4 linked regions of the Homo sapiens genome follow. The protein of the gene in region 1 purifies or fractionates together with the protein of each later gene. This does not show direct contact. Each region holds a gene or a part of one and is shown in the gene's direction. Other genes may lie near its edges.

Region 1 (7,024 bases):
GAACATAGATGTATTTTGACCTCTTGGGGTTTGGCCCTTGCTTACCACAGTGAAAATGCAGGAGTACAGAGAAGTATATTCCAAAATTTAGTAACTTGAAATTCAAAATGCTTTCTGTTTGTGGCTTAAAGCACCAAGTAGATATTTCACTTTAATATTTGGCATGTTTCTATTCTAAAAAGCTCTGTCATTTTTATATTTTTATCCAGATATCTCTTTCTTTGTAGGTGTAAATATATTTTTCTAAAACATTTGGCTAATCTTTTAATTACCCAAAGTTCATCAAAGTCTAAATTAATTTCCATTTTACAAAGACATTTACAACATACCAAGTCACTTGAATAAACAGAGTACCCTTGGTTTTCCTACTTTATAGATGGGTTTTACTTACCAGCAGACCATTTTGTACTTTATTTGAGTCTATTCCCAGGACTGCATAAATTTCTCCCCACATAAGAAGACCCACAAGTCCACTTATCTGTGGAGGTGAGTGGACCATGTACCATCCTAGAGCTTCTTCCATGTTACACAAGGACACAAGATTTGGATCACTGGTATTCACAAAGAGCCCTTGTTAATAGTATGATCCCAACCCATTCTCACTGGTTGCAGAGGAATGTCCCTTTATGTTATCCTTATGTTGCAGAACTCGGAAACAATAGCCACTTCATGAAAGCAAATGCTCGCGTGCAGCTAACAGTGCATTGGATTTCCACTCACATTATCAGACATTTGTTTTCTAGACTTTATCAGTGGAACCTTAAAGAAACTTTGATTTCACCTTAGATTTTTATCGGTTCCAAGCCTACAGGTTTATTAGCAACCTGAACTTCAGCAGCTTGGTATATAGGCCATCATCCTCATTTACACTATGAAATGTTTGATATTTGTTCAATATCCCTGTGTCTGTGCCTTACTAGCAGAAACTAGAGCATGCAGGTACTGGCATTTTCTTGGTTTGCATATATGCAGTAGCTCATTAATACTCTCTGGCAGCAACTGAAACTGGTAAGTTATCAAAGATATCCAGCGAGAAGAGAAAAAACCTGATATGTGAGCCAAGGGACGTTTGTTTAGTTGTTGTTGAGGGTGGAGGGAATTTAGAGAAGATTTGAAATTAATTTCCAAATCAAATTTGAGAGCACCTTGTGGTAAATGGTAGTCTATAGCATCTCCCTTAGTCCAACATCCTGTAACAAAGAGATCTTCACATGTAGCCATTCTGATATTTTGAACTCTTTGTAGTTGTTTTAGCTTTATTACTAAATTTTTTTCCAAGATATGTATGCTTTTCAAATGGGAAGCATGTGATTCTATCCAAAAAGTAGCCCAGTGTTAATACAGTAATTTAAGAAACTGTCCAGCAGAGGTCTCTGAACTTCATGGTTTAAGAAGAGCATTTCAAACAATAAATCAAACCTGATTCTTTGCATGACAGAAATATACTTCTATTGAGCATATTTTCCAGATTGGATTTTAGAATAACTGTATTTCACATAGGTTAAACTCTGCTTATTCATGTTTAAAGACGCTGAAAACTTATGTTTTCAGATTTTTATTCCCCTAACAGGATAAAAGCCTGGTTACCACCAACTTTGCACTATAAAAAGAATAAATATATATGAAACGTAGAAGACAAAAGCAACAACTAATATTCTACAATGCCACCAGCACTACAAAGGCATTGATGTAGTTTGGCTTTCTTTCTATGCAGCCAAAATCCATAATTAAATCAAGCAACTGGCTGTATTGCTTGATTTATAAAGAACATGCATGATTGGACTGCAAACTTTTCTTTGTGCAAAAGCAGGAAATAAATAAATACCAATTTGTATGTTTTGTGTTGCCAGCGATGAAATCTACATTGCTCCTTCAGGAGTGCAAAAGGAACGAATTCAGGTATGGTAATGGGATTCTTTAACCTCAGTGTCTTTTCTTCTTAATTACTGTTTTATGAAATGGAATTAATTTTAAGAGAAAACATTCATTTTATCATAGCAATTTGAATAACTAATCAGCAAACATTTATTGAGTAATTATTAAATGTTTTGTAAGGTGGTAGATATCTTCCATACAACCGGTGTATGTTTTGAAATCTCATTCAACCTATAGGGGGCAAAAGTGAATAGTGCAATCTTAAATCACAGTAAAGAGCAATTATAACTTTGCAGCTTTATAACACTACGATCTTTATCAGGCTGGTGGAATAATCAGATTGATGGTCTCAGATGAACCAAATTAATTCATATTTCCTAATAGCAAAGTTATTCTAATTTCAGGATTTCAAGTTATGAAACTTTGTTTCAAATTTTGAGAAGTCTTATTCTGTGTTAATGCCAGAATAATACCCCAAATCTAGTTAAAGCAAACACATAATTATTTAACTTCTAATGCAAGAAAAAAAAGAAAAGCTGCTTTGTTAATAAAACATTTGTATTGTAGTTTTTTAATAAATCCTGGCAGATAAAAGCTACAGAAATACGCATGCTTTACTGTATGTGGATCAGATACCCATCAACAGTAGACTGGCGAAAGAAAATGTGGTACATATATACCATGGATTAGTATGCAGCCATAATAAAGAACAAGATCATGTCCTTTGCAGCAACATGAGTGGAGCTGGAAACCATTATCCTAAGTGAATTAATGCAGGAACAGAAAAATCAAATACCGCATGTTCTCACTTACAGTGGGAGCTAAACATTGAGTACATACAGTCACAAAGAAGGGAGCAATACACACTGGGACCTACTGGAGGGTGGAGGGTGGGAGGAAAGTGAGGATGGAAAAACTGCTGTCAGTTACTATGCTTATTACATGGGTGACAAAATAATCTGTACACCAGACTCTTGTAACATGCAATTTACCTATGTAACAAACCTCCACATGTACCCCTGGACCTAAAATAAAAGTTAAAAAAAAAAAGAAAAACCTGTAGATCTACATAATTTCTTAAGCTTTAAGAAGAATATACCTTATTGAGATTAACCTTTCTGAGTACCATCTAAATTTCTCAAGGGTTAGAAAAATTACTCAAAATTTTGCTTTTATCTAACAAAATGTGGGGAAAAAAATTTTAACACCCATCTTTGGAATGTCGATTTCTTTATATAGACTTTCTGAAATACAGTTGTGAAATTATAGGGCAAAGTTGAGAAGCTAAATTGTTGAAATGACAGCAGTAACATCATTACATAAATAGTAATTTTCCATATCATTTTTTGTCTTCAAATTTTTTTTAATTTTTGGGATTTGTATTAAACTTCTGAGAATATTTTTACTAGTAGAAATCACTGTTTTATTTCTCAAAATTGCTAAATTATTTTGAGAAACTATAATTATATATTTAAAATGTAAGTTAAATATATGCATATATTAGCACTCTATGTATATGTATACTAAATATACACACAAGTATGTATACTATAGATAAACTTTCTTGTATTCTTATGTATATGTACACAAGAAAAGGAACATTTCTAATTGATATTTTACAAGCCTTCTTTTTTTCTTTTTTTCCCCTCTATAAATAGCCTGAAGACATGTTTGTTTGTGATATAAATGAAAAGGACATAAGTGGACCTTCGCCATCGAAGAAGCTAAAAAAAAGCCAGTGTACTCCTCTTTTCATGAATGCTTACACAATGAGAGGTATGCAGAAAATATATTCAACATAAAGAATATTTGCAGAGTAGGCTCCTCTAAATAATGGTAATTATTATTTCAGTTAACATTTCTTGGATACCCACCATGTGCAAGAACTTGAAGTGCATGAACTTACTCAGTTCTCACATCAACCTATGAGGAAGGTCCATTATTCCACTTACCCTCCTGCCTACTACCAACTTATTCCATGCCAGGAAAAATAAGCCCATAACCATATGTAAATATAAGTATAACTATATGGACTTTTTTTCTTTAAAAGCTATAATTCAGTCTTCATTGAGCATGCGGCTTTCTTCTTCCTCCTTCAGGAGCAGGTGCAGTGATTCATACCCACTCTAAAGCTGCTGTGATGGCCACACTTCTCTTTCCAGGACGGGAGTTTAAAATTACACATCAAGAGATGATAAAAGGAATAAAGAAATGTACTTCCGGAGGGTATTATAGGTATTTTTTTTTCCTTTTTCTTAAATAATTTGAAAAGAATTCTTCCTTCTCTTTGATAAATAGAATACTGATCATTTTATGCATATAATGAGATGTCGTGGGATCTGTGTTAAATAATACTCCATTTAATATTACACTTCTAGACCTATTCTCATGACACGAATGGGATGTCTTCCCTCCTCTCCCGCCCCTACCCCAGCCATGGTAAATTATTAGTAATATGAATAATGAAATGTTTGTTTAAACTGAAAAAAATCTTGACTGAGATCTCTATCATGATGGAAAGATTATGTTCCTGTATTGAGGCAGCCAAAGATATCTTCAACTTCACTTTGTCTTCAGAAATTTGACCAGTGACTACAGTTTATACTTCATGGTGATTTAATTTAGTATTTCTGGAATATTTTCATATTTATGTAAGTTTTTTTAATAAAGTAGATCTCTATATTTTTAGAATTTTTCAGTGTTTAAGGTGAAATGGATAGTAAGTATAGATTACCATTCTAGATCAGTTTAAATAAATTCATCAGTCCACAAAAGTGTAGTAATTCTTCATAATTCTAGAATATAACGGCAGGAAGAAACATGTTCTCAGTGTTCAGGGACAAGCTAAGCATTTCATTTGAGTTTATTAGCATTCTCATTCCTGAACCTTCACTCTTAATTTCCTAAAGGGCTTGATTCTACCTTGCCTTGTTTAGAGGAAAACGGTGCCAGTTTTACTAAAGTGTTATTACCACAATATCATATTCTTACTGCATGTAATGGAATGTGCATGTTTAAACTAGTGCACTGAGAAATTGATTTGATTTCAGTTAATATTTATTGTGTGCTTAAAGCATTCCTCAGGACTGTGAAACACCTGTTTACAAAAGTTAAATATTTAAATTAAGAGAAGTGTACATACTGAGGAAAGTAGAGCCCCAGATTGCCTCTTCCATATCTGGGGCTGAAGGAGAGGCCTTATGGGTACTATCAGTTTCATATGAATGTTATTGTTTTGGTGAGGAAATAAAAATAGGTCAGAAGAATCAGTTTTTCTGAAAAGAGTTTGGAAAAAGTAAGGTAGAGGAACAGGGCATAAGAGAGAGTCTTTGCAATTTTGTGGAGAGGCCAAGCATGGTGGCCCTTTGCAATTCTGTTGGAGTCTAGCTGGGAAATGAGTAATAGAGTCATTAACACAGCTCAGGAGGCAGTGTTATTTTATCTGAATTTGAAGAGAATCCTGAGTCTAATCAAAAGAAAGGCAATGAAAGCTGGATGAGGTAAGAAAGGATGGAGTTTAAAATTCTCTACTGTATTTTTTTAAGTTTATCTTTTATATAAAGAACAGCTTTAAAATACAGTCACTTGTCACTGTGGATGGGGATATGTTCTGCGAAATGTGTCACTAGGTGATTTCATCATTGTGTGAACAGCAGAGTGCATACACAAACCTAAATGGTATAGCCTACTGCACACCCAGGGTATATGGTATAGCCTAATGCTCCTAGGCTACAAGCCTGCATAGCAGGTTACTGTACAAAGTACTGTAGGCAATTGCAACACAATGGTAGGTATTTGTGTATCTAAACATAGAAAAGGTTTGGTAAAAAAAAAATATGATGTAAAAGGTAAAAAGTGGCACACCTGTCTAAGGCCCTGACCATGAACGGAGCTTGCAGAACTGGAAGTTGTTCTGGGTGAATAAGTGAGTGAGTGGTGAGTAAATGTGAAGGCCTAGGACATTACACTACTATAGACTTTATAAGCATTGTATGTTTAGGCTACACGAAATTTATTGAAAACATTTCTTAATAATAACCTCAGCTTACTGTAACTTTTTTAGTTTATCAAGCTTTTACTTTTTTTTTTTAACTTTTGGACTCTTGTAATAGTACCTTAAAACACACATTGTACAGCTATACAAAAATATTTTCTTTATATCTTTATTCTATAAGCTTTTTTCTATTTTAATTTTTTTTAACTTTTTAAATTTTTTTTGTTAAAATCTGAGACACAAACACATATATTAGCCTAGGAGTACACAGGGTCAGGGTCATCAATATCACTGCCTTCCACCTCCACACCTTGTCTCAGTGGAAGGTCTTCAGGGGCAAGTAACATGCATGGAGCTGTCATCTCCTGTGATAACTAACAGTGCCTTCTTCCGGAATACCTCCTGAAGGACCTGCCCGAGGCTGCTTTACAGTTAACTTTTTAAAAACCATATAAGTAGAAGGAGTACACCCTAAAATAGTGTTTTAAAATTATAGAGTAATAAATACATAAACTACTAACATAGTCATTATCATCACGTATTACATACTGTAATAATTGTATGTGCTGTACTTTTATACAGCTAGCAGCACAGTAGGTTTGTTTACACCAGCATCACCACAGACATTTGCATAATATGTTGTGCTGTGACCCTATGACAGCTATGCGGTCATTAGGCGATAGGAGTTGTTGAGAGCCAAAAAGGCCAAAGGGATCGTGATCAACTCAGCATTCCACTGGAGGCTATATGATCAAACAGCAAACTGTTTATCATGAATGCAGGATGTGAGCAAACTCACACTGCGCCTGCCACCAAAAGGTTTGCTGAGGGACATCACTCCCTGGCACCGGGCTCCTTGAAGTTATCCATTGAGAAATCTAGAGCCTATTGTTCAAAGGATGCAGTCTTGCAAGCCTGCTGTGAACCAAAGTGGCCGACTGACAATTGCCCGACAATTGCCCCCCATTTCTCGTTATCTCTTTTACCAATAAATACGGAGGGCTGTGTACAGCTCGGGGCCCTTGTCCACTAGAGGCAAGGTGCCCCCGACCTCTTCTTCCAAACGTACTCTCTTGTTTTTATCTTTTATTCCCACGTTCGCCCCCTTTGTTCAGTCCACCAGGTCTGTGCAGGTATAATGGAGTTTTTCAGCTC
Region 2 (7,286 bases), on another chromosome or scaffold:
TACATGAAAGAACCAGTATTAAAGACATCAGCAGCCCAGTGGAAAACCAGGAAAAAGGAAATAAATATTTCAAATAAAAAGAAATATAAATGGCCAGTATCTCTCCCCGGCCCCTGGCCCACCCCATGAAGAGATGCTAATCTTATTCACACTAGAAAAATGTTTTTGACTGGGTGCCATGGCTCACGCCTGTAATCCCAGCACTTTGGGAGGCAGAGGCAGGCAGATCACTTGAAGTCAGGAGTTCAAGACCAGCCTGACCAACATGGTGAAACCACGTCTTTACTAAAAATACAAAAAATTAGCCAGATGTGGTGGCGGGCACCTGTAATCCCAGCTACTCAAGAGGCTGAGGCAGAATCGCTTGAACCCAGGAGGTGGAGGTTGCAGTGAGCTGAGATTGTGCCACTGCACTCTAGCCTGAGTGACAGAGGGAGACTCTGTCTCAAAAAAAGAAAAAAGAAAAATGTTCTTTTTTACCTGGTGCCATTTCTCCCTGGGCCACCCATAGGGCCACGTGATTACCCTGATTCAATAATTCTTCAACTTCAGCCTGCCTCCCGAGAATTACCTAAAGAGTATGTTAAGAATGAATAATTCTAGATCTCATCCCCAAAGCTTCTGATTCACTAAATTTGGGGCCAGGGAACCTGCATTTTCTACATAATGGCCTAAGAAATATATTTCAAAAAACACTGCCTACCTTTTGACCTTCCTATTGCTGGATTTCTTCCTCAGACATCCTGAGCTGACCAGATTCCATAGTCGAGGTTGCCAGATATATAACTAACAGCATCAAAGGTTAACCATGTACATGATACAACTTTGTCATAAGAGGGACACTGCCAGTGTCACTGAAGAAACCAGAGTGACATCTAAATAATTATCACACTGTAGAATGGTTGCCACTGTAGTCATCGGGAGGCAGGAGGCAAACTAAGATGATATTTCCTAGATAAGTATGTAGCAAGTATGCAATAAGTATGTAAGTAATACGCTTTATTTAACATACAGCTAGAAGCCACGCTCTTCTGTCTCCACTTATTTGGAATACATCCTATACCTGTGAATTCACAGAGATAATCAACAAGGCATCTCTGTCAGGATGTAAGCATGATTTTAGGGTGTAAACTAACATCATCTTTATGGAAATAACATAACTCTTTACGAAACTGATGTTTAATCTCTATGATTTCTAACACCCACTAAATAACCTGGTTGGCCGGCCCCTTGTTGCCATACATAAGTTGCCTTTAATGAGGGGACAGGATGTTTATCTTCAGTGTGGTAGGTGAACAGACATGTGTTCACAGCAATGACTCTAGGTCAAAACCCTGACAAGCCTTGTTTACCTTTTGTCCCCGCCTCCCCAGGCCCAGGCAGATGAAAACCTTTTGCTTGCGTCAGCTCTGGAAACAACTTGTGCTGCATTTGACCACCATACTTTAGGACCATAATTATTTTTTAAATTTCCTTCCCCCTAACTCTTGCTTTCAAGAAATAGAATTGTCCTTGGATATTTGAATAATATCCAGTAGTAACCCTAGACTAGAATAATTTGATGGAAAAGTTTGCCCTAATGTCATTTCCACAATATCTTTGTCTGTATAAATTACATTTCTGTTTTTCAAAGAGGACTTGTATTGGCATGTATTGAATTCCTTGCCTTTTGTGGCATTGATTTGAAAAGTACAGGTGTTAAAGCTCTCACTGTGTTCTACACAGATGTGATGTGGAGAATAAAGGTGTCTTGCTACTTTATACAATATTATAGAAGCATAAGTACAATAATTAAATATCAGTAGCATCCCTAAAAGCCAATGTATGGTTTCATCTGAGCAAATGAAATGTCACTGGTTTGACATCAAAAATAAATACTATAAAAAACTTGCTAAAAATTCTGCTCATAGAACCAACAGTTCAGTAAACTCTAAAGTATGGGAAAGTCTTTTAAAGCTAATAGTGTTTAACCATCCACTATTTTGCCTTCACATACGTAGCTAATAATGAAAAGTGGCTTGGTATTTATATAAACTGACTATGAATGAGGAGATGGAACTCTTGCCTATCTTTGACCCTAATAAACCATACAGCCTCCCTAGACTATCACTATCACATGGGTAGGAGAGAGGCAAGATAGGAGAGATTGGATTATATGATCTCTGTGGTATCTTTAAGCATTAATGTTTTATGCTCTGTTTCTACAATGACTGATACTCTTCAAGAGAAACGGAAGTAGCTACTCTTTATCTACACAAGCTCAGAACCATAACCAAGTTTTGTCTTTGGGAATTCCACTGTAAAATCATCCATCCCCTGTGGGAAACAGTAGCTCACACCTGTAATCTCAGTACTTTAGGAGACCAAGGCAGGAGGATCACTTAAGCCCACGAGTTTGAGACCAGCCTGGACAATATAGCAGGACCTTGTCTCTACAAAATATTTTTAAAATTAACCAAGTGTGGTGACATGCACCTGTAAACCCAAGTACTTGAGAGGCTGAGGTGGGAGGATCACTTGAACTCAGGAGGCAGAGGTTGCCGTGAGCTGCACTCAGACCACTACTGCACTCCAGCCTGAGAAGCAGAGCAAGACTCTGTCTCCAAAAAAAACTTTAAAGCAAAAGATCATTCCCACAAATCTCCAAGGAGTAAACAGAAATGAAATGATGGGGCTTCAGGTAGTTCCTCCTTAGTTACTGAAGAATCTTTTAAATATGTTCATAATTATAATCTGGATTCAAATTCTGGATACCATTGAAATCAGGAGTTTCAAATGGAGAAAGCTAGAGGTACCCACATAAATGATCTAGTACCTATTTCTATTGCTTCCTGTTTCTTTTCTTTAAAACTCATCCTATAAATAGCATTCAAGTAGATAGAAAATCTTATATTTAGAAGAAAATATAAGAAAAATCTTATATGTAGAAGAAATCATCTATAGTGTAAACAAAAGATAGAGACCTTTGTGAAATATCTCCTTCAAACACAACAATAGAGAAGAATGTTGTTTTTCCCTTGTAAAAAGCAATGTCACTTAAAGACCTGGAGTTGTTTCATTAATTCTCTTAGGCAAATTAAATTATCTAATTCAACATGACATGAAATAATGCAAAAGTAAATTACTTTATCTGGCTTCCAAAAATACTAAAACTACTTTTCTCAAGAAACTAAGCAATACTTAGAATACATTCTATTACCAGGGTCAACCTTGTTTCTGAATTACAGTGATGGGATAGTGAAGACAGGAGGCAGTCTCCCTTTGAAATTCTCCAACCAACATGTATTATCTATCAATCAGAGAACAGTTAACTGCATTTTCTTTTAAGTTTATTGATGTTGCTGCCAGCCTGCAATGTTTGCATCAGGACACTCTATACCCTGTTTCAAACCCATACTAACAAAGGAAAAGGGAGACACGAAAAAGGGAAATAATATTCAAAAATATCCAGATCCCACTCTGGGCTTTTTTTCATTAAATTCTCACGTTTCCAACTTCAGTTTCTCCTTAATAAATATTTGTGGTGGTGTAAAATGTGTTCCTCACCCACATTATGTACTTTTTATCAGTGGTAATACTATGAGAAGTGAGAATGTTGTATTGTAGTTACTTTAAAATGATTTTGTAAATATCATATTGTAGAGGTTTGACTGAATAATCAAGAAAGAAAATGCCAAAGTATGGAAACAAACATACTGGTACTAGTTAAATCAGAGTTCCTTCATCTTAACTTTGTTATTTCAGAAAATCTTTAAAATTGAGAGTGCGGTTCAACCACAAGACATTTTAAAGAGAGAAGCAGGACTCAACTGAATTGAAATGAGCGTCATTATTCTATCTTTCTTCCTATACCATACTTGAGTCCTGATGACTTTCAACAATGGCCTCTGCTAAAAGTATCATTCCTTGAAGTGGGTTCTGCAGTGGACATGTGTGTGTATGTGTTGTCAGTATATGTAATTTTGCTTTTACAATGTTGGCAGTAAGAAGAAGCCTTCTAATTTTATTCAGCATGATGATAGGCCCTAGCATTTTAATTATTTTTTATGTTGTGAGTAATTTATTATTCACTGGCTATCTTCCCTGTAAATCTTGTCCTCGCTCTGTAAGGTTTTTCTTTGGTGTCCAACAAAGGGTTTCATTGCAATAAGAATCAAGGTGTGTCTAAATTCTTACCCAGAGCCCAAACAATGCCAGTCTTCCAGACCAGCCTGGGAGTTTGGGGTGGGGAAACAGTCATTATAGAATATCTTCATCTCTCTGCCCAGAGATCACCACAGTTATCACCCATGCCCTCCTAAAAGGGTGTCTCAAAGCATATCTTTCTGTAGAGCAGAATTCGGAACTGAGAAGACGAGGGCTCAAATTGAATCTCACAGGATTTGCGTGCAAGAGAAACCCAAAGGAATGGATTGGCTCTTCTTCAGAAACATTTGCCTTTTGATCATTCTAATGGTAAGTAGAATTTAAAGAGGTGGGAAGGAAATGCAGCCTCAAGGTCTTGTCTCTGTCAACTGTCGGGCTTTCTACATGGGATTTATTCCATTTTTAATCTCCTTCCTGCAAAGAGAGTTCTAGAAGTCCAGCCTCTGTTAATTTCAAACAACTCTCTCCGCCTTGAGGAACAAAATGCCATAGAGAAGCGGGGTGAGAATCTGGCTGAATTAAATTTATATGCCCTCAGAGACATAATCTACTTCACTTTGAGTGTTAGGACTATTCTAAAATTTTAAATTGGAAATAAAATTCATATTCTATGATCATATAAATAAATCAGATAGATTGCTGTGAAAACTGCCAGTGCAAATGGGTTCTAAATTTGAAGGGAAGTTAATCAAACCCATTTCTTTTCAATAGTTATTTCCCTATGAGTTTCTTTCAAAGTGGAGGAATGATAGCCATGTTGAAATTACATTGCAACTAATGATGACATACTAAAGTCATGAGAACTTTTTCCAGTCAGATATTGCTAAAGAAAAATGAAGCCCAGCCATCAAGACAAAACTTTTCTGGAATTATGAATGCATTCCTACAGACCAGCAAAGAAATATTTAAATGACTTATTTCTTTACAGTAAACATGGCATCTTGGATATTATATTTCTTTCCTCTAACCTTTGGGTGCCCAAGGTGTGACATGATTTCCAGACAGGCAGCATGCATAGCAAATATCCTACCCTAGAAAGAGATAATTCCAACTCCAAAGAAGAACAAAGTTCCAGTTGGCCAATCAACAAACTATTGCCAATTCTGGGAGGGTAAGAGGACAGGATTATTAGGAACTGTACAAATTTTTCAAAGTAAATTAAGACAAATGCATTATAGTTGGCCACACTTCAATCTCCCAGGAGTATCCAGGTTAGCGCTACAACCTAAGCTTAGAAAGTGATTCCCATCCTATTCTTAGGCAAGTGGCAATTATACCAGACTCCTCTGAACATCAGTTGTAAGAGACAGAGAGTAGCTAGGGCTGGGAGAGATGGGAGCACGTCATTGTCCAAGAGGCACAGTGAGAGCTACTCTTCTGGAATTCACATTTCTAAACTTCAAGAGCAGTGCGGGAGCCGAACACTGCCAAAGGGCACACAACCCCAAGCTCAAAAGGGAACGTGACAACAGTGGTAGAATATTGCATCCTCTGAGTTTAGGAGACAGATTATTAAACAATACCATTTTTGAAAAATATTTTTAAACTTAAAAACATAAGACGAAGGGCAATATTCTGTTACAATGATCATTATTTATTTACTAAATAAAATAAATGTTACTAAAAGAAGAGGCAAGAATCGGACTTGGTCTTCAATTGAAATAGTAAGTTATGAGGATATACCTCTTGTTACTCTTCTACCGAGTATATTCATGCTTTGACTCAGATAAACTTTTGGTTTTCTGTAAGGAAAATTGTATGTGTCAAGATTTTAGAGGCCACTTCTGAGCACTAAATCTTGCCTCCCATTGCCTTCTGCACAGGCATGATTTATGATAATATTATTTAATTGAAGAGTTGATTCTTCTCCTTGATCTTGAAAGAGTATTATACTTCAGACTCTCAGGATCTTTTTTTGGTAGTATTTATTTATTTTCCTTGGTAATACTAGCGTTTTTAATACTTAATTCCTCCTACTCCTCATTGATATTGAAGTCTTTGTGTTTGACATTTCACGGTAATTGTGAAAAAGTTCTTTAAGTATTTTTTTTCTTTATGCTTGTCTAAAAGATCCCTTACCATATCAATTAATAGTGTCTGGAATTGGGAGGTAGAGACTTCTGGCATATTTCAAAATTGAAACAAATACAAGAATTGTTTAAGGAGAATCAATGAGATGTTATAGATATTATAGGAAAGTAGACATGCCTACTTCTCTTTAATTTCCTGAACTTGAACTCTGCCCCTTCTTCATTAACTAAATCAAAGACTCTCTGGGGCATCATTGCAGCTTACACTAATGAGGGTGTGGCAGCCTCTCAGAGACTCACAGGTACTTTGTGTCAGCTACATCTCAACCGCAAAGAGCACTGTAAACAAAGTTCTGACTGGCTAACCAGCAAAAGGTACTCAAAACTCTAGATTACAATAGGGCACTGATTTTATCACGAGTCATTTGGCATTTTCTTCCTAAGGATGCTTATCATGTTCTTCTATAAAACAGACAGGGGTGGTGAGGGACATTCAACAGTGAATCGAGATTCAGAAGTCCCGGGTTTGAATTACAGCTCCTCTTCAAAGTGGCTGTGTAACTTTGGCAAAAGCACCCAACTTCTCAGGGCTTCCTTTGACCTCATGTGAGAATGTATGGTTAGACATGATGTTATTAAGTTGCTTCCACTGTAGAAACTGCAATTCTAAAATTATCTCCACTGAATACTTACATAGTAGAAGTTCATTTCTGGCTCATAAATAGTTTTCATAAATTTGGCTGGAGAATCTGAGGATTTAGGCAATTCTATGGATTGTATAAATTTTATAAGGAAGGAATCACTTACGGCAGGACAGTTATTAGCTGGAAGAGGCCTATATTATATCAAGTGGATAAGGTCATAAAAGACAACCATTTATCAGATAAGAATTTTTCTCTATGTGTGATGACCATTCATGCTACATATAAGATGTAAGCACTTCCATTAAATAGTCTAATTCTTGGAAGTTAAAAAGGTAGGTGGCTAAATATAGCTGTTATCTCATTGCAAGTTGAGAGCAGGCATCAAAATTTGAAAACATATTTAAAATTAACTTAGCCACTTATCAATTTAGTTCTCACATGCACTCAAATATGTTATTCTGAAACA
Region 3 (8,024 bases), on another chromosome or scaffold:
AAAGGCAAGTTTTATTTCTACAAATTAAAATGTCAAAGTCCCATTGGACCTGTGGATTAATTCATCTCAAAGTTTCTCTCCCCATAAACAGACAGACTCATGGTTCAGGACAATCAATTTTAGTTGCTTAATCCACCCGATGGCCTGGCTCTGATCCCAGTGAGGTGCTCTGGTGTTCTGGGTAGAAGGTCCCAAGAGGTTCCGTTCTCAAGGATCTTCCTTCCTCAGTTAAAAAATAATCGTCAGCTGTCACTCCTGGCTTTGCTCTTCTCAGTCCATGTCTGGCAGGGACCTGGCTTACTTACCAAGCCCAGAAATATTCCCCTGGCCTCCTCTCTCCACCCGCTACTCTTTTCTCTGGCACGCCGTTGTTAGTTATCCTTCAGATCTCGGCTTAAACATCATTGCCACTAAGTCAGGGGCCTTGCACGTATTACTGCATCTTACCACATTGCGGGCCAGGAGCTATTTCCGTGTCAGATGGGGTGTTCTGTGAGGATAGGGACTGAGTCTCCTTAATTGCCATTTCCCCAGGGCCTAGCACAAAGCCTGGCTGTTTGCTGAATGAATGAAGGTTCTGCAGGATGTGGTTGATCTTGGCGAGGTGAAGATACCTTTATCTTCAAAGCCTCTTCATTCTTCCTCAGATCTGTCATCAGGGAATCACATAGCCTTTACAAGCGATTTCTTCTCGCCTCCACTCATTCTCTTGCTAACAATTCAGTTGGTGGCATTCAATCGCCTCCCTTTGCTCTTGTGCTTTGTTGATGTAGTGACAACTCCAGCCACTCCTTTAATTGATGGGGACTATGTGTGTGCTGCTTGCTCTTCTGAGTCTGTCAGCTTCAGGACATTGCTTGATGGGAGAGATGTGGGCATATCCAGGCTCCTCCTAGAATCCCACTTCTTCTGAAGTGTACCAGTCAGAACCACTGAGGTTTGGGAAACCTAAGCAGGAGCTTGGGGAGTCCCTGTGTCACCTGTGTTCACGGCTCTTCCCTGCCAGCTTTGATTTGAGCCTTAGTTTCGAACCCAACCCACACCCTCAAACTTAGCCCCACATGTCGATCTCATCCCTCTCTGTAACCAGAATCCGACGTTGTCCCATCACCACCCATGCAACCTCTGAGCCCCCTGCCCTTCTCATGCAACCATGGCCTCACCTGGCAGACCTCCACCTCCAAATCATCACTGAAAGCTGGGTGGACAGACAGCAGCTGCAAGGCTCCTTGGCTTCTCTGTGACTCTTTGCCTATCCATTGTCACTCACAGCTTCTGCTCCCAGAGTCTTACCTCAGAGGTTTCCTCTGCAGGACAGCTCCTCCCTGGGTGCTGCAGGGTGAGCCCTGGGCTACATGGGGACTTGGGAGAGGGGGCTGAGGAGCTTGCTGACTGTGTGGGGAGGAGTTTAGAATGAGTCAAATTGCAGTGCCAGCCAAGGCAGGGGTTGTGGGGAGCTTGATTGAGCCTGAGCCCAGGGAGTCTGGCGGCCACTGAGAGGGGTTGGGGTGGGCAAGTACAGGCAGGGGAGGGCAGGGCTTAGAGGAGTGGGGTGGAGTTGCCATGAAAGGGACTTTGGAGGAAGAATAGGCTTTGGAGGAAGAGTAGGCAGCCCAAGCCCTCTGTCCGTCCTTCCCAGAAAGGTTCTGGGGCTGGGCTGCACTTCATCTGGTAAGCAATCTGTGGCCTTCTCTGAGTTTTTGTCCAGCCTCTTCCTACCTCCTGTATCTCCCTGTTTACTCCTTTCTAAGCCAGTCTTTGATTTTCTGTTACTGTCTTAGAATAGAAGCAAATACCAGTCAAAGCAGGGCCATTCTTCCCTGGAGAGTCATGGATTTCTTAGGAAAAAGCAAGGGGCCCTTTTGGAAATTTGTATTGGTTCCCAGCTCGTGGCCTGGGCCCTCTGCCTCCTCTGTATCCCTCTGAGTCTCTGGAGGGGCCATTTAGACCATGTGTCTTTCTGTCTGCCTCTGTCCCTGTCTCTGTCTTTGCCCCTTAACTCATCACTATCTCTCCCAATCTCTTTCTTCTCTCTCTCTGGGGTCACAGGGGGAACCCCAGTAGTCTCCTGGACCAGACCTTTATAAAACCTGAAAAGGAAGTGGGTGGGGAAATGAGATGTTTGGGCTGGAGACTGGTTGGGGAAAAATGAGAGGGAGGAATTGGGACGGGGTCTTCCTAGGAGTGGGGCCCTCTTCCACTGCTGAGGATAAGGCCCAGAGACTTACACGGACTGTGAGCTGGGCCCAGAGGGAGGGGACTGTAGGACTGTGACATATGCTTTGGAAACTATGCTGACACCCCAGTGCCTTCACCCCATCCACAGCCTCCCCACTGCTGCCCTCCCTGAAAACCCTGCAGGGCTCAGGGTTTAGGGCTGGAAGGCTGACAGCTTCTTTTATAGGACTCAAATTGCAAGAAGGTAGCAATTAAGCCTCAGAGGGTCAAGGGGAAACAACAATGGCACTCTGCCCTTTCAGGCTTTGAAAGACCCCCATGTGGTGCCCCATAAAGTGGCTGTTCTAGGAGCATGTAGGCCCTCAGTTTCTCCCAACTCCCATCTCCTAAGGACTCCAAATCCAGACCACCCCTCCTCCCCACTCAGTAAGACTCCCTCTGATGGACCCCATCTTCTAGTTCGGTTTGGTGTCAGAGCCCAACTCATTGTCAGTAGCTTCCTGCGTCTCCTCCCCAGATGTTTTTCTGGAGCTTGGCCAGGTGGTGAGCTTTAGTAGTGGAGCAGGACTTCAGAGGGTCCATTCTCTATGGGATTTAGTTGCCTCATACCCCTTAGATGGGCTCGTGTACATTTGGCTTCCTCCTCCAAGTCTTGGGACCCCAATCAACATGTGCCATTAGTAGTCTCCCCGCACTAAGGATTGAAAATTCTAGCCAAACCTGGATTTAGCAGATGGAGGCTGAAGTCTTTCTATATTAGAAATAAAACCTCATCTTTGATCCCCATCAACTCCCGCTGCTTACGTGTCTTTAAACCATGTTCCAACCCTAACCACAGCCTATTTCAATGTGAATCTCAAACTTAGTTCTAACCCAATGCTAAATCAATCTAAACCCAGCCTTTGATTTAGCCCTAACTGTATTCCCAGGCAGAGCTGTAAATGAAACTAAAACTCTATTCCTTATCGTAACACAAATCCCAGCCATAAACCTGAGCCTCAATTCTAGCTGTATTTCTAACCCTAATCCCAACCTTAACTCTAATCCCAACCTCAAATCTGACCTCAACCTCATTCATAATTCAACTAACCCCAAACTTAACCCCAGCTCTAACATTAGCCCACATCCAGAACCCAATTAAATCTGAAGCCTGCACTGTAGTTTAGTGGAACCACAATGTTACTGCTTTCTCCTCAATCTCTCTGTTCGTGGTCTGACCTGTTTTCCCTCCCACTCACCCTGACCTTCCATGGTTCTTGTTCGTGAGTGGGTCTAGTAATCCACAGGATCACCAAGACCATTTTTTGGACCTCTCTGGACTGACACCCTGGGTACCTGGGTATCCCAGCTTAGGCACCAGCCGCATTGGCTGAATCCCCATGTTTCTCCAGGTCTCTGTTTCCCCATCTGTAAAATGGGGATAATGATCCCTGCTCTTCAAAGGGAGCAGGACAATCCCATAAACCTAAAAATAAATAAGGAAATAAAGATATTCATTGTGTACATCTGGTAGGTCTCAGAGCGCCCTGTTATTGTTGGGAGTTCAGGTGCAACGGCTTGGAATGCAGAGACGCGTGGACTCCTTGTGTTTCCTTAATGTTCTGACTTATTTTTCCCCAGAGGGGTGGGCCCTGGCAGCATCCCTGAGCCCCATAACTCTCCCTAACACTCTTCCTCCTCTGCCCTTTCTGTGCCCCATGGTAGGGATGGGGGCAGTCCCTGACTCCTTTGAGGGAGTTGAGCTATTGAATGGGGTCACTCATGTCCTGACTCCCACCATGGAGTCCAACAAGGCACATGCCCATTCTGTCCCCCTTAGACAAGCCAACAAGGGGTGGCCCTTCACTTGCTCCCCATGCCTACCAGGACCCTCCCCACCCCAGCACGAACTTACCCAGAACTGTGCTGGTTTAGTCAGCCCGATGACCAGTCCAGGTTATGAGGGTCCTTGGTCTCAAGGACCCAGTTAATACTGGGACTGCATTAACCCTCAAGACCTGGCTACTCTTTCTGGGCAGAGAAGCCAGGACACCAAGCGATCCCTCAAGAAGTTCACTCAGAGGGGCTTAGCCATCCTCACAGAGACACCCTGACACAGACATCCTGCCTCCCTCCCACAGACATTGCTGAGGGGTGCACACGCTTACACAGGCACCCCCTTCCCTGGTCCTCTTGGCGCTGTTCTCTCCAACACTCCCTCACTAGCCCATCAGTCACCTTACTCCTAGCACACACCCTGGACCCCCCATAGCACCCCTGCTCCCAGGGGTCCCCTACACTTGGGGATGGCCTTGAGTCGAGTATGGGTGTGGAGGACAGTTCCAGAGGGGACAGCCAGGAGGAGACTCTGTTCCTGCACACACCCCTTCTCTCCTCTTTCAGCTCAGGAGGCCTGAGTCCCTTTGAAAGGCCTGAAGCCTGGGGGAAGGTGGGCTGGACACTCCTGGGGAACCCTATGCCCTGGGATCAGGATTAACTCTTCAGGTCCTGGCCACTCTTTCTCCCAAGCCTGGCTTCTCCTTCCTCTTCCCCACTTCCCCCAGGGAAGGAGGCAGCAAATGAGTGGTGAGGGGAGCCCTTGGAAGCTGTAAATGAGGTGACTGTTGTCACCCTGAGGATGTGGCCAGGAGGAAGTGAAGTTTAACAGGTGCCTAATTACAAGTCCCGCTGGCTGTCCTGTGCCACTCTTAGGACAGGGAAGAGCTTGGGTGAGGGCTGGGTAATGCCCAGGTAGGCCACCCTGTCACCCTGCTAATTAGGGTTCCTGGGACTCCTCCCCAAGGCGGGGACCAGGCCCCCTCCCTCCCATAGAAATAACTCCAGCTGCTCCCCAGCTGGGCACTCATTGCACCTTCCTGCCACCCCAGGCAGTGTCTGGGCCCTCAGCTCCCCCTCCCTCCACCTACCCCCTCACACCCACCACTACGACCCCACGGGATACCCAGCCCAGACGGAGGAAACACCGAGCCTAGAGACATGAGAGTTGGAGGAGCATTCCACCTTCTACTCGTGTGCCTGAGCCCAGGTACGGGGCTGGGCAGGGGGCAGGGTAGCCAGCATGAGGCTAGGTGGGAAGGAAAGGGGCAGCAAGGGCTCACAGTGGAGCCTGGGGCTGCCTGAGTTGCCTGGCAGGGTGCTGCCCACCCTTGCCCTGCTGCAGCCGGGTGTGGGTATTACCAGGGGACCTTTCCCCAGGAGACCCTGTGCCTGATGTTCAGGGTGTGTGTCTGTAGTGCAGAGGTCTTTGAGTGGATCTTTATATGTCCCCTGTCGGGCTCACACATGTGTGCAGGTGCCCTGCAAGCTCATGCCGTGACTAGGAGGAGAGGGATTGATTGCTCTGCAGGAGCTGGAGGTGGGGTAGGAGAGGGGTAAGCACGGGCATTGGGTGAGGGCTCAGGAGGAGCTTGGGAAGGATCAATTTTCATCAGACTGTGTGCTATTCCCAACGCTACTCCTTCTCTCCCAAGGCCAGGGCCAAGGGGCAGGGAAGTCACTTGCCTTGAAAGGGCAAGAGACTAAGTCTGGTGTAAGTCTGAGTGGTTTCTTCCATCATGGCCAGTGACAGCTCAGGCCTGAGACCTCAGCCTTGGGCCCCCTGTGCTATGACAGGGCAGTGCCCCACTCTAGGATGAGGCCTGAGGGTGGTGGGGATGGCAACTCCAGAGACTTCTCACCCCACCAGGACAGGTCCACAGGGCAGGGCTCAAGTTTGGACATTGTGGCTTCCTGCCCAGGTTGGGGCAAGTTCCACCAAGGGGCATTCTATGCCAACATCACTGGAAAGGGCTCCGAGTCCCTCTTGCAGTCTGGATTTGGGATGAAGGGGCATGAAGGAGGAATTTGGGAAGGCGGGGTGACATTTTCAGCCTTTGTGTGAGCGTGAATGTGTATGTGAGTGTGTGGGTGCGTGCACCTGCATGGGAATGATGACATTTCCGGCAGGATAGCTGCAGCCCTTCTCTGTCTGATGAGAGCAGGGCTGGCAGAGTCCACTCGGGAGGCTCCAGCTGTGCTGTGGGGACCCGGACTTCCCCCTGTGTGGTGTGTCAATGGGTGTGTGAGGACAACTCAGCACTGGCTGCATTAACGCATCAATACCCTCAGCTGGAGCCGCCTTTTCTCCCCTCCCTTACCTCCAGAGGGAAGATCAGGAGTTCTGGAAGCACCTTGAAGATTCAGAAAGAATTTGCAAGCAGAGAGTAGGCACCACTATTGAGATGACACCCCGTAAAGCATGGCCAGTTTCTGGTGCTTTTGGGGGGCAAAGAATCACCACTGTCCTCTTCCTTGGAGAGCCCATGTGATTCCTCCATTCCTGTCTCTCCTCAAGTCTCCCATCCAGCTCTCTCTTCCACTTTGCCTTTCTTCCCTCTCTCCAGCCTCTCCTCTCACATTCCCTGTAGTACTTCCTTAGTGCTACAGCAAGAGGAATCAAGGTGAGACATTAGGAGCAACTTCCCAAGGAGAGGGAGGGGTGCGGAAAGGCTGGAACCCTTGGGAGGAGGTTGAGAAGACTTCTAAGGAGATAGAAAAGCTGGGTGAGGCTCCCTGGTCTGGGACAATTGAAGAATCTCTCAGCCTGGTGCAGGGTGGAGGTGCTTTTCTTGCAGCCTGTCGCTCCTTCCCAAGCCCCTCTCCCTGAATGCTTACCATCCTGCCTGGCAGGCTCCTATGGCATGGAGAGAGTCCTTCCTGTGTGGGTGCTTCCAGCGGTGCTTCTCCAGGGTGGAGCCTCTGCTCTCAGCCGAGTTCTGGCTCATCCCTGGCTTGCCTTGAGCAGCCTCAGGATCTGGCAGATGGCAGCAGGATCCTTATCTCAGGAATGAGCTGTTGTTCTCTTGGCCTGGAGCTGGAAGAGGCATCACTAGGTCCCGTTAGAGCCCCAGCAGTCAGCCTGCCTGCTCTGGGTCACCTTGGAGTCTAGCTGGGTTATGACAGAGCTGATGGCCCAGCCAGTGTTCCTAGGGGGGATGTTCAGGGATCCCTGAGCTGTTGAGGGTGTTGAAAGGGCCCTTGCTGGCCTCTCTGGAGCCAGGCTAAGCCTTCCTGGCAGGGCTTCCATAGATATGTCTGGTCTTGAATGAACACATACAGGGACTATATGAACACACGGTGGGTGTGTCTTTTGAATTAATATGTTCTGTGTTTGTGTGCAGATTGTGTCTGTGTCTGAATGAATCTATATAGTGTCTGTGTTTGTAGGAAGGTGGGGCCATATAGGTATGTATCTGCATTTTGAAGCCTTGTAAGAGTGGGCCACGTGCCGATTTGTTTGCCTGTGATGGTGTAATTGTGTGTGTGCATGTGTGAGATCTCTATGTGTAAACATGGTCCTGAGCCACATGATAGAACAGAATGATTGCTGAGACCTGGGGCTGTGACTCCAGAAGACATGTTGACTCAAAAAAGAACGCAGACGGAGAGTGTGTGAGGCCTGGTGAGGGGCCTGCAGAGGCAGGGTTGCTGGAGACTGGGAGGTGGAGGGCAGAGTGTCCAGGGTGGGGCCCTGGCTACACCCCCCGGTCTTATCCCTCTCTAGGTCCAACCGGTTGGGGATAGGCCTGCCTGGGGCTTCAGGGTAGGGAGGGACAAGAGCTCAGTCCTGAGCTCCTGGGTCCTGGGATCCTGGCTCCTCACCCAGGATTGCCTGCCACTGACTCAGTGGCAGGAGGGGCCTCACTGGAAGCCAGCTTGTGGGGGCAGCTGCATGCGAGCCACACAATCACATAAGAGGAAGCACACACAGTACGCAATGCTGTGTAGTCAAGAAAGACTCACAATGTCCTACAGATACCTGTGGCCATAGTCCCAGGCACACACCATCACTCACTATCACACACGAA
Region 4 (7,024 bases), on another chromosome or scaffold:
GTACTAAATAATAGAGGCGTAGAATTTTGGACTGATAGTGTCTATCTTAAGGCAAGTGTTCACTTATATGTCACTTTTTTTTATTACAGGGTAGGGAAAAGTATAGCACATCTTTATGTGCTTTTGTATTTATAAAAAGATAGTATTTTGAAATAGAAATATTGTGTTACTCCCATAAATTAACGTGCAAACTCTTGGTTTGGCCCAGTGTCTCATGTGAATAACTTTCTCCTTTAATGCTGGGCAGAACTGAAAGCATTAAAAATAAAAAAAAAAAAAAGAAAAAGAATTGAAAGTATTAATTCTGTCTTTCTTTAGATAACACACCATATTTTCTTGTGCTTCTAAATTTTTTTTTTTGCCTGATAATTTAAGATTGTTACTTCTGTTAAATGATTGTATTTCTGCTGATAAGGAATTTTCTAAGAGTTTTATATGTTTTCGTGTTATCTCATGTTTTGTGAGTTTCGCTCACTTTATTCAAAAGGAGATGTTGGCCAGGTAAGGTGGCTCACGCCTGTAATCCCAGCACTTTGGGAGGTCAAGGCGGGAGGATCACTTGAGCCCAAGAGTTCCAGACCACCCTGGGCAACATAGAGAGAACCCATCTCTAAAAAAAAAAAGAAAGAAAAAAAGAAAAGAAAAAAAAATTAGCTGTGCATGATGATACATGTCTTTGGTTTCAGCTACTCAGGAGGTTGAGGTGGGAGGATTGCTTGACTGCACCTGGAGGTGGAGGCTGCAGGGAGCTCTGATCATGCCACTGCACTCCAGCCTGGGTGACACAGTGAGACCCTGTCTCAAAAAGGAAAAAAAAAAGCAGCTGTTACTCTTTCCCCTTCCATCTGCCGCAGATGGAGTTTTGCTTTTGTTGCCCAGGCTGGAATGCAATGGTGTGATCTTGGCTCATGGTAACCTCTGCCTCCCAGGATCAAGTGATTCTCCTGCCTCAGCCTCCCAAGTAGCTGGGATGACAGGCGCCCACCACCACACCTGGCTAATTTTTTATATTTTTAGTAGAGACAGGGTTTCACCATGTTGGTCAGGCTGGTCTTTCCTGACCTCAGGTGATCCACCCACCTCAGCCTCCCAAAGTGCTGGGATTACAGGTGTGAGCCACAGTGCCCAGCCCTGTTACTCTTTTTACCTTATTGTTTTACTCCTTTAAACACTTTGGGCAGTGCTTGATCCTCTGTTTTTTAAATTTTTAAACTTTTATATTTTTAGGAAGTCAGTTAACTGAATTTGATGTTCTCTATCCCTTTGCAAAAATTAAAAAACAAATTAGAGATAGTTTTCCTTGTTAAAAATACCCTTTAACTTTCATACAATAAAAGGCAATTTAAAAACATTAATGGCCGGACGCGGCACCTCATGCCTGTAATCCAAGAAACTTTGGGAGGCTGAGGCGGGCGGATCACTTGAGGTCAGGAGTTCAAGGCCAGTCTGGCCCACATGGTGAAACCCTGTATCTACTAAAAATAAAAAATTAGCCAGGTGTGGTAGTGCACACCTATAATCCCAGCTACTCGAGAAGCTGAGGCAGGAGAATCACCTGAATCTGGGAGGCGGAGGTTGCAGTGAGCCGAGATCCCATCAGTCACTCCAGCCTGTGTGACAAGAGCGAGACTCCGTCTCAAAAAAAAGAAAAAAAAAAGAAAAATTAACATTGAAACTTCCTGAAATCATTAGAGTTTTAGAATTCCTGGTTCAATAGAATTCACAAATTTCAAATAATTGAGCAAATACAAAGTCTCCTCTTTATCCTAGTGGCATTTTTTCCTGGAAACATCAGAAACTATTTTAAAGTTTGTTGCTTTATTTATAGTCTTTGCGGTTATCACCCAGCTTTTAATATGCCTTTCCATTCTTTACAGTCTCTCCAGTTCTTGTTAGATACATGTAAAGTTCTAGTCATTGGAGCTGGCGGCTTAGGATGTGAGCTCCTGAAAAATCTGGTAATATATATACATATATATATAAATATTTTTTTCTTCTTTGTGATAAGTAAACCTTACTTATCTGTCATACTAGGGAATTTCTCGTGATTCTTAACCTTTTCTCTTGAGCCTTTGTTAGATAAGTTTAGCATGCCAAATTCCAAACAGTAATTAAAATGGTAGAACTTTGGAACTTTTTAAATTCTAAAGCTCTCAGCTATAAAGTTATTGATAAAATTTCATACTTCAGTTTTCTTCTCTGATCTTTAACAAACAACTTTTGGTGCTTCCTCTGGCAAAACGCTCCTAACTTCAATGAAGTAAATAACAAAACTGGCAATTCATATTTTAATGTATAGTTTCAAATAATTTATTATTTCTTTTGCTTCCCCAAATAACCCAGCTAGGTGGGTAAGGCATTACCCCATTTTATATAGAGGGAGACATTGAGGTTTAGAGATGTTGACTGAGTTGCTGAAGTTTTTGTGGATTATAGCGATTTGCCTGGAATTGAATCCAGGTCATCAGTTCTTAGTTAAGTGTTCTTTTTCAGTGAACCATTAGGTCATTTTATGACCTAATAAGACGATTGTGGACACCTAAGGTTTGGGAAAGCTAAACCTTTACTGAACTTATTTGCATATATTTAGAAATAAATTAAGTATATAATTTGATTTAATTAATTGGTTTCCTTGACTTTTTCTAATCACAAAGTCGCTTTCTATAAATTTTAATGAGTTTATGTAACAAATGAGTAGAGGCAGAATTGGTTTAGAGTTGTATGCTAGGCTTCTCACTGCTGTGTAGAAAAGTGGAAATGCTGGAATAGACTCTTTAGAAAATAAAGCAGGTCACAGCCAGATGGAGGACCCAAATAATTGGCCAAGGGGGTTAAAGTTTAAATATAAACATAGCCACATTAATTTTGTTAAGAAACACTAATGTCGCTTGAGTGAAGTTGTAAAAACTTAAATATACTTCACTGTATTTAATGTCTTGCTGGGTTCTGTGGGGATTATATGTCATCGTGGTCTCTGTCTTCAATCAATCTGAAGTTTCATTGGGGAGATAAATCTCACATGAAATAAATAGCAGTATGCATGATATACTCTGTGGTGGAATGCCAAAATGACAGTACCGTATCAAACATAAATACTCTAGCAGTGTGAGAACCAAAGACTTAGAGAAGGAAAGGGTTTATGGAGGATGGGCATTGGTTTTTGTTAGGTATTATAAATGTACAAGTTTCCTAAAGCTTATTAAATTTTGAAGCCATTATTTGCAAATGTGACATTTACTAATTTTAAGTGTAAAATAATTGAAGATTAGATCTGAAGATTAGTCACCAAGCAACTTTAAGGAGTGACCTCTTCTTTATTGCATTATAGTAATCTTTTACACAAAAGAAGAAAACTAAGGGTTTTCAATTTTACTCCTTGTTTTGCTTATTTAATTCATTGTAAGCCCCCTAAAGGCTCATTCTAACAAAAAAGAATATGATACTAGACTGGGCATGGTGGCTCACACCTGTAATCCCAGCACTTTGGGAGGCCGAGGCAGGCGGATCACAAGGTCAGGAGATCGAGACTATCCTGACTAACACAGTGAAACCCCGTCTCTACTAAAAAATACAGAAAACAAAAAATTAGCCGGGCGTGGTGGCAGGTGCCTGTAGTCCCAGCTACTCGGGAGGCTGAGGCGAGAGAGTGGCGTGAACCCGGGAGGCAGAGCTTGCAGTGAGCCGAGATCACACCACTGCACTCCAGCCTGGGCAACAGAGCGAGACTCCGTCTCAAAAAAAAAAAAAAAAAGATACTAATATTACTGATTGAGCAAATATTTATTGAGCCTCCATCCCATATGCCAAGCACCATTTTAGATGCTGAAGATACAGCATTGAACAAATACAGAAAGGTGTTTGCATTGGTGGGACTCACATTTTAGTTGAATGAAAAAGTAAGTATATAGTATGTCAAATGGTGTGAAGGGAAAAGGTTTACAAAAAGGTGCTATTGAGTACAAAGGTGAGCAAATGAGCCATACAGTTATCTGTAGGAAGAATATTCTAGTTAGAGAGAATAACAGGTACAAAGCTGTGAAGTGGAGCACTCCTGTTTGTTCAAGGACTGCAAGGAGGCTATCATCGCTAGAGCAGAAGTGGGTTGGGGGAGCATTTTTGGAGACCATATCAGACAGATAATGGGAGATGGAGGGGCTTGGAGTGGATATCACAAAAGACTTTGGAGGTTACTGTAAGTGCTGTCGCTTTTACTCTGAGTCATGAAGTCATTGGAGAGATTTATGCAATGAGAGACTTGATTGGCTTTTCACCTAGGTTACTGAGGCTGATGCATTGAGAATAGACTAAGGGAAGAGCAGAGAGGGGGAAGAAACAGAGAGACTAATTAGATTATTATAGTCCTCTAGACAAGAGACAACGTGACTTGAAACAGGATGGTAGCATTGGATGTGGTGACAGGTGGTCAGATTATGGATATATTTTGAAGATGGAATCAACAGGATTAGCTGATGGATTGGTGGTGTGCTGTGAGAGAAAGGAATCGAGGATGATACAACAAGGTTTTTGCTCTAGGGGCGGGCACCTGGAAAGATGGAGTTACTGCAATGAGGAAGTTACTGCAATGAGGAAGATCTGGAAAAGAACAGATTTGGTTGTTGTGAGCAAGGGTGATCAAGTTTGGTTTTGGAAACTGTTAAGTCTGAGATGTCTGCTAGATGGTCTATATCTTACAAGATGGTCTGAGATCACCAGAACAAAGCACAAGGCTACTCCGAATTCTGGCCAGTAAAGTAGGAAGAAAACTGAATGAACTGGAAACCAATTTTTAAAAAGTGTTTAAATTCTCATGAGTGTGGTGACCAACTGAAGAACATGTTTTAGGGTGGAGGAAGTGACCCACCCAGCCTAATACCTCAGAAAGGTAAGGTCAGATAGATTGAGAATTGGTCATTGGAGTTAGCAACACGGAGGTTATTGGTGAACTTGACAAGTACAGTTTCTGTGGAGTTTGAGAACAGTCAGGACTTTGAAAGCACAAATATGGATAAGTCTTGAAGATCTCTTGGTATATAGGGGGACAGAAAAATGAGGAAATTATTGTCAAGTTATTTGATCATCGAAGTAAACTGACCAAGACCAGAAAAGTTAGTTATTGAGACTTATTTTTTTCAGTTTTTTGCATCTGCTGCTAAATTTGAATGTGGTTGTACTGTTCAGAATGCATGGCATTATTATGGAAACCTAACAGGTTTTTTGTTTTTTGCCTTTCCCTGCTTTTTAAATTGCATGCTCTTGATTCAATATCTTTTAAGATACTCCTTTTACAAATACAGCCTACCCATGTGTGTGTTTTTATAATATATGTCTTATAATAGTTACCATTTCTGAATTGTGGCATGCTTAATATTAAGTAAACTAAAATAAAGCTTGTAGAATTGCTTTTAACAATATTTTGAAAAAATAATAGCAAGCATAGTAAAATTAAAGTATCCATCAATAGCAGCAAAGCAACAAATTTTACAAATGTGTTTATGGAATTATATATATATGTAAAATAGTTTCAATCCGTAGAAATTTTGAGTTGTTCTCTTTTGGTTATAGATTATTTGAAACTGAGTGATTGTACACTTTTGACCTGTTCAAGAACTCTGAATTTTATATACCTTGCAAGAGTCTTTCAGCCATTGAATACAAATTACACAGAATTTATTACTGAGAATTTGTAGACTTAAGACTACATTGAAAACAAATGTTACGTTTTTAAATGTGAGGAAACTTCTGCTTAATTGGATTGTTTTTATTCCCACAGGCCTTGTCTGGTTTTAGACAGATTCATGTTATAGATATGGACACTATAGATGTTTCCAATCTAAATAGGCAGTTTTTATTTAGGTAAGTTTTAATATCTTAGCGGTTTTCTTTTTTTAAGCTCTGATAATCATTTGAACTTGTACATTGCAGTTTAATAATTTTTAAAAATGACTTGAGAGGATAATACTAATTTTATTTTAAAAAACAAAAACTACCATTCCCATTGTAGGTAAAGTTTTGTAAGAAAATTTTGGGCATCTTGGTGATAGTAGTTATGTAAACAAATACATGTTTTTGTTTTTTCGAAGAAGTCTCCTTCCAAAGGTTTATGTGATTTTTGGGAATATCCTCAGGTTAACTGTGCTCTGAAGAAAGGAAAGAACGGTAGCTCTTCCTCCAGTTGATGTCAGAAGAGAATACTCGCTGGAGTATTAGGCCCTAGTGAGAGATTGGCAGGGATTTGTGAGCCAAGGTTTGAATGGTGACTGGAGCAATAAAGTTGGGAAAGAGTTTGAGCTTTTCCTACAAGGGGAAAGAAAATGGAAAGTCGAGGAGAGAAAAACCAGAACCAATTGGAATGGAACAAAGAGGGATGGTTACCTTAGGCATATATGGAATATAGAGAACATCAAGGAGTGATTTGTTAAAGATGAGTTTAAGAAGAGAAGTAGAGGCCAGGCATGGTGGCTTACACCTGTAATCCCAACACTGGGAGGCTGAGGTGAGAAGATTGCTTGAGCCCAGGAGATCCAGACCAGCCTGGGCAACAAAGGGAGATTTCGTCTCTACAAAAAAATTAAAAAATTAGCCGGGTGTGCACCTGTGGTCCCTGCTGCATGGGAAGCTGAGGTAGGAGGATCGTTTGAGCTCAGGATCTGGAGGCTGCAGTGAACTGTGTTCATGCCACTGTACTCCAGCCTGGGCAACAGAGCGAGACCCTGTCTCAAAAACAAAAACAAAACAACCCAAAAAACAAAAACTGAAGTAGACCATGTATCCAGACATGAAGAAATGTTCATTCATGAATTTAGTATGTAATATTGAGGGGTTTGAGTAGTTTAGGTAAAAGTGTATATTTGTTAGTCAAAGATACACAGAGATAAGGACTTTTTTTTTCTCTCTCTATTTAGGAAGTTTGCATCTGTTACTGACAGTGCTCAAATTGTTCTGGGTATATAGGATAAAGTTGAGCTAGCAAAAAAGGTAACATTAAGTTTTTGGATAGGCATAAAACCTCTACATTATCTTTGTG

Evidence for each region.
Region 2: the proteins of APIP (region 1) and DSG4 purify together in Homo sapiens (affinity purification with mass spectrometry; 3 studies listed by BioGRID and IntAct, with this or other methods). This does not show direct contact.
Region 3: the proteins of APIP (region 1) and VSIG8 purify together in Homo sapiens (affinity purification with mass spectrometry; 3 studies listed by BioGRID and IntAct, with this or other methods). This does not show direct contact.
Region 4: the proteins of APIP (region 1) and UBA3 purify together in Homo sapiens (affinity purification with mass spectrometry; 3 studies listed by BioGRID and IntAct, with this or other methods). This does not show direct contact.

Annotation. Positions count from the first base shown.
Region 1 is NC_000011.10:34,885,379-34,892,402, reverse strand, and holds part of APIP (methylthioribulose-1-phosphate dehydratase), read left to right. Parts: intron 1-1,850; coding exon 1,851-1,899; intron 1,900-3,533; coding exon 3,534-3,651; intron 3,652-3,974; coding exon 3,975-4,110; intron 4,111-7,024. UniProt on the Homo sapiens protein: Catalyzes the dehydration of methylthioribulose-1-phosphate (MTRu-1-P) into 2,3-diketo-5-methylthiopentyl-1-phosphate (DK-MTP-1-P).
Region 2 is NC_000018.10:31,372,505-31,379,790, forward strand, and holds the start of DSG4 (desmoglein-4 isoform 2 preproprotein), read left to right. Parts: upstream 1-4,272; 5' UTR 4,273-4,407; coding exon 4,408-4,455; intron 4,456-7,286.
Region 3 is NC_000001.11:159,859,652-159,867,675, reverse strand, and holds the start of VSIG8 (V-set and immunoglobulin domain-containing protein 8 precursor), read left to right. Parts: upstream 1-5,018; 5' UTR 5,019-5,154; coding exon 5,155-5,203; exon of another isoform or gene 5,204-7,030; intron 7,031-8,024.
Region 4 is NC_000003.12:69,070,364-69,077,387, reverse strand, and holds part of UBA3 (NEDD8-activating enzyme E1 catalytic subunit), read left to right. Parts: intron 1-1,877; coding exon 1,878-1,958; intron 1,959-5,770; coding exon 5,771-5,853; intron 5,854-7,024. UniProt on the Homo sapiens protein: Catalytic subunit of the dimeric UBA3-NAE1 E1 enzyme. E1 activates NEDD8 by first adenylating its C-terminal glycine residue with ATP, thereafter linking this residue to the side chain of the catalytic cysteine, yielding a NEDD8-UBA3 thioester and free AMP.